Linked DNA regions of Homo sapiens: region 1 is linked to region 2. The links come from fine-mapping of genetic effects on gene expression. Tissue or cell type: atrial appendage. Region 2 holds a variant in brackets; the other region holds the start of a gene. All regions are shown on one strand. Distances are from middle to middle.

What was found. PIP is the estimated chance that this variant, and not a neighbour inherited with it, causes the effect.
Region 1: CECR2 starts here. The variant in region 2 is fine-mapped to the expression of CECR2 in atrial appendage (GTEx, PIP 0.94).

Annotation. Positions count from the first base shown.
Region 1 is chr22:17,368,302-17,371,058 of GRCh38, forward strand. CECR2 (CECR2 histone acetyl-lysine reader) reads left to right here and starts at 1,159. Exons shown (of 19, transcript NM_001290047.2): 1 at 1,159-1,608. The coding sequence starts at 1,483. RefSeq lists silencers at 1,417-1,486, 1,497-1,596.
Region 2 is chr22:17,402,737-17,405,493 of GRCh38, forward strand. All of the region lies in intron 1 of CECR2 (CECR2 histone acetyl-lysine reader), which reads left to right. Among named protein-coding and RNA genes, the nearest start is that of CECR2, 35 kb to the left of the region's middle. The variant TTGGGAGATG/T (reference allele first, on the strand shown) is at 1,280.

The DNA of each region.
Region 1 (2,757 bases), 34 kb before region 2:
GTGATTGTGCCTGTCACTCAATAAATAGTTGATTAATTTGGGGGACGCACCAGGAGCAGTGTTTCCTATCTGAAAGGTGGACCACCGAACTCAGAGGCGGCCCTCTGAGACCAGCAGGATGCAAGTGCGACGACCAATACAAATATCTGAGCATTCAATGGAGTTTTTCCAAACTTCTAGCCTGTTTCTGGGGTGATTTTTTTTCTTAGGATTTAGCAGTACTCCACCGCGCTACAGCAGTTAGCATTTCTAAAGCACACACTCCAACACCCTTCGGCCGTAGCACATTCAATCCCTCCGCCGGGGCGTGGGGGTCTCCTCCCCTCCGAGCACAGTCCCCGGCTTCCCGATCTCCTCTGCCCCATCCCCCCGCCTTCCAAGCACATTGTGCTCACTCTTCCAGGCAGCTCTTTCAGCGGCCGGGCAGTAGCAGGGTTCCGAGCCCGTCTTCTCCGGGGCGGTCACACGTGTCCATTCCCTGGGGTTGGGGATCGCTCTTCCCGCTTGGCTGCTGATTGGTGCCTCCCCCTACCCCACCCTTCCCGCCGCTCTCCAGCCTCCATCCTACTTCGTTCCAGCTCAATCAGCCCCACCGCCTTCTTCCCTCGGAGAAAAAAGCCACTTCAGAGCTCCTTGGGCGCCGTTCTCGGCTGGAATAAAAGCGTTAAGAAACAGGTGGAAAGCACTTCACTTCTCTAGGCTTCATATTTCTAGGGTGGACAGCCCGCTCCTGCTCCGGCTCTGCCCTCGGCATCAATAATAACTGAACTCCCACACGTGCACGTTTCTGTCTCTAGCCCGACCGAAAGGACCACCCCGCGGGCCCTTTAAAAGGACGCGACCACTCAGGCCAAGTGGGGGTGGGAGAGCTCCTGGCCGTCCTCCCTTGGGAAAGTGCTTCAACTCCCCAGTCCCAAAGTCCTGGAGGGCGGAGGGCGCCTCGTGAGAGTTCTCGGGGGTGCGGCCCGCGCCCCCTGGGTCCTGCGGATCTGGGCCCGGGGGCGCGCGCCCCGCCCCTCCCCCTCCCTGGCGGTGCAGCTGTCCGGGCGGGGGTGGGGCGGGGGCGGGGGTTGTTGTTGTGGCGCGGGCAGCCCCGCCCCCTCCTCGTGGGCGGCCCCTCCCCCAGGCCCCGCGTCCGGCCCCTCCGCCCCTAGCCCCATCTGTTTCTCCGGCGGGGACTCGATTATATTGTAGGGGACTGGGGGCGGCCGCCGCCGCAGCCGCGGGATGGGGCGAGCGCGCGGACCCCGCGGGCAGCCGCAGCCGCAGCCGCCTCAGTAGTTCGGGCCCCCGCGCCGCCGCCCCCCGCCCGGCGCCCGCCCTCGGCTCCTGCACTCGCCGAGCGGCGGCAGCAGCGGGAGGAGCGCCCCGCCGCCCCCGCCGAGGACCGCGCGGAGGCTGCGGCGCTGCCGCGGCGGGAGTCCCAGGTCGGCGGGCAGAGCGCGGGCAGCGAGGGGCCGCCGCCTGTGCCGCAGCGGGGAGATGTGCCCAGAGGAGGGCGGCGCGGCCGGGCTGGGCGAGCTCCGCTCCTGGTGGGAGGTCCCGGCCATCGCGCACTTCTGCTCGCTCTTTCGCACCGCGTTCCGCCTGCCCGACTTCGAGATCGAGGTGAGTGGCCGCGCGGGCGGGAGGCGGCGCGCTGCGCCCCCTGCTCCCCCTGCCCCGCGCGGGGTGTCCCGGGCCGTCGCGCAGAGGGGCCGGGGCCCGAGGGACTTCGGCCGGGAGTCGGGGGCCAGGAGGAGGGCGCAAAAGGGCAGGAGGGCGGGCGGGGGCCGCCGGGCTGTGCCCGGGTGCCGAGGGGCGTCGGGCCGGGGACGCCGGATCCTGGGGTGGAGGAGCAGGCACCGCGAGGGCGGGGCGGGCCCGTGCTTTTGTGGGAGAGGGAGCGGGAGCGGGACCCGGCGACCCTCCCGGGACTTCTCCGGTGGGCTGGGGCTGGGTGTGGGCGCGAGGGCTGCGCGCGCTCGCCGCCCGGTGCCATTGAGGCGCGAGCCAGCTGCTCCGGCGGGGCCGGGCGCGGGGGGGGGGCCCGCGCGGGATTAACTCGGACCGGGGCGGGAGTCGGCCGCGGCCGGCGGGGAGGGCTAGCCCCGCTCTGGCGGGCGGGCGCGTGGCAGGGGCTCCCGGAGGCCCCAAGCTCCCGGGAGGCGCTCCGGCCAACTTCGGGCCGGTGGGGACCGGGCCTGGGCGCGGGGCTCTGGAGGTGTGGAAGGAAAGTTTGGGACTCCGTTATTCTTCCACAGCGTCCTTCCTCCCGTAATATCCAGCCTCTTTATCGCGGGGCTCGGGAGCCCTTGGAGTTGATCTCGCCACCATTATCCCCCCGGGCGAGCGCGGAGGACGGGCTGGCCATTCTGGCCAGGCCGGAGGTGTTTTCCAGCCCGGGGCTTTGTGATAACTGGGCCGAAACCCGAGGGTCCTGGAGCGCGGCGGGTGGCGGGAGCTTGCGGAGCGCGGCGCACTCGGCGGCCAGGCATCGGCCAGCCCAGCGGCAGCCCCCTTTCTCCTATTTTTATTTTTATTTTTGGAAGGAGCTGAGAATTAGTCGATTGGTTGGCAGGTTGAATTGCCTTCTCTTCTATGGCAATATGTGTCGTGACTTTTCACCTTTTGCCTTTGGACAAAGGTGAATGGCAACTGCGTTGGTCAGTTTTTGTTTTCTGTTCTGCGGATGGGTTCGCCGACGCAGTAATCAAAATTAGAGCCACTCTTTTGGAAGAGCAAATCGTTGTTGTTGCCTCCCCAGCCCCACGGATC
Region 2 (2,757 bases):
TCTTTCTTTCTTTTCTTCTTTTTTTTTTTTTTTTTTTGGAGACGTAGTTTCACTCTTGTTGCCCAGGCTGGAGTGCAGTGGCGCAATCTCGGCTCACTGCAACCTCCGCCTCCCGGGTTCAAGCAGTTCTCCTGCCTCAGCCTCCTGAGTGGCTGGGATTACAGGCATGTGCCACCACGCCCAGCTAATTTTGTATTTTTAGTAGAGACGGGGTTTCTCCATGTTGAGGCTGGTCTCGAACTCCTGACCTCAGGCGATCCACCCGCCTCGGCCTCCCTAAGTGCTGGGATTACAGGCGTGAGCCAGCGCACCCGGCAGTTTCCCCATCTTTTCATTTCAAGATTTGTTCCTGCATTCCACCTGACATCGCATGTCTCCTTAAGTCTGTTGTCATCAGCGTGGACTCATTGATACTTATCCTTTGGGTTTGAATCTAATACTGTTTACTTAGCTGCTCAAATTATTTCAAGCTTTGGCCATTGGAAATTCTTTCAGGTTGACTCCTTTCTCCTTTAGACATGTCCTCATTTTTTTCTTTTGGTACTGCCATTGTTTGGCTATACCCACTTTTTATCCATTCACCAGATGATGTATTGTTTTTGCTTTTGGATTGTTTTTGTTTGGGGCTATTATAGATAATAGCTGCACGTATTTGCTTGTAAGTGTGTGCTTTCTTTTTTTCTTGGACAAATACTTAGTAGTAGAATTGGAGTTATGTTTTAACTTCTAAAGAAACTGGCAAACTTGTTTTCCAAAGTAAACACACCAGTTTGTTTTCAACAGTAGTGAATAAGGGGCTCTAGTTTTTTCACATCATCAATACTTGTTATTTCCTGTCCTTTTGCTTATCACTATTCAGTAGTGGGGGGCGAAGGGCTATTTTAATGTGGTTTTGATCTGCATCTCCCTTATCATTAATAATGTTCACCTTTTTCTGTGTTAGCTATTTATATCTTTGGTGATCTTCTAGTTAAGGTATTCTGCTCATTTTAAAATTGGACTCTTTGTCTATTGAGCTGTTATATATTCTGGTTTTGCTTTTTCCTAATCTAAGGTCACAAAGGTTTGTTTCTTACATTTTCTTCTAGAAGTTTTATTGTTTTAGATTTACCATTTAAGTCTGTGCTTCATTTTGAATTGATAATTTGCATATGATATAAAGTACTGATCGAAGTTGGTGGGGTTTTTTTTGAGTGGGGAGGGGGCATGTGTTTAGTAGCATTTGTAGATAAGACCACCCTGGCCGGGCACAGTGGCTCACACCTGCAATCCTAGCACT[TTGGGAGATG/T]GAGTCAGGAGGATCACGAGGTCAGGAGTTTGAGACTAGTCCAGCCAATGTGGTGAAACCCCGTCTCTGCTAAAAATAACAAAAATTAGCCGGGCGTCATGTTGCACGTCTGTACTCCCAGCTACTTGGGAGGCCGAGGCAGAAGAATCTCTTGAACCCAGGAGGTGGAGGTTGCAGTGAGCCGAGATCGTGCCACTGCACTCCGGCCTGGATGACAGTGCGAGACTCTGTCCCCATCCCCCCGACCCCCCTGCCAAAAAAAAAAAAAAAAAGACTATCCTTTATTAGTTGCCCAAGTCAGTTTTCCATATACATGTGGGTTCATTTCTGGACCCTGTTCTTTCTTTTTTTTTTTTTTTTTTTTTTTGAGACGGAGTCTCGCTCTGTCGCCCAGGCTGGAGTGCAGTGGCGGGATCTCGGCTCACTGCAAGCTCCGCCTCTCGGGTTCACGCCATTCTCCTGCCTCAGCCTCCCCAGTAGCTGGGACTACAGGCGCCCGCCACTACGCCCGGCTAATTTTTTGTATTTTTAGTAGAGACGGGGTTTCACCGTTTTAGCCGGGATGGTCTCGATCTCCTGACCTCGTGATCCACCCGCCTCGGCCTCCCAAAGTGCTGGGATTACAGGCGTGAACCACCGCGCCTGGCCCTGGACCCTGTTCTATGTCATTGTTCACTCTGTTCTGTTTTCAAGACAATATCACAGTATCTTAATTAGTGCAGCTTTTAATAAGTAGTGAAATCAAATAATGTTAGTCCTCTCACTTTGTTCATTTTCAAAGTTGCTTTGGCTATTTTATATTTTTTATATTTCCATATGAATTTTAGAATTAGCTTATCAGTTTCTACAAAAAAAGCCTGCTAGCATTTAGATTGGAGTTGTATTGAATATCTAGGTCAATTTGTAGAAAATGGGCCTCTTAACACTATTGAGTCTTCTGACCCATGATGATGGTACCTCTCTCTCTCTAGGTTTTCTTTGATTTCTGACAGAAAAGTTTTATATTCAAATTCTCAACTCTTTAGGTATCTCCCATCTTTTGTCAGATTTATCCCAAAGTATTTCATTCTTTTTGATGCTATTATACATTTTTGAAAGTTTTAGGCCAGGCATGGTGACTCACACCTGTAATCCCAGCACTTTGGGAAGCTGAGGCAGGCGGATCACCTGAGGTCAGGAGTTCAAGACCAGCCTGGCCAACATAGTGAAACCTTGTCTCTACTAAAAAATACAAACAATTAGCTGGGCATGGTGGTGGACGCCTGTAATCCCAGCTACTCAGGAGGCTGAGGCAGGAGAACCGCTTGAACCTGGGAGGTGGAGGTTGCAGTGAGCCGAGATTGCGCCATGGCACTCCAGCATGGGCAACGAGAGCGAAACTCCGTCTCAAATAAAATAAGATAAGATAAGATAAAATAAGATAAAATAAAAAATATAAAATAAAATAAAATATAAAATAAAATAAATTA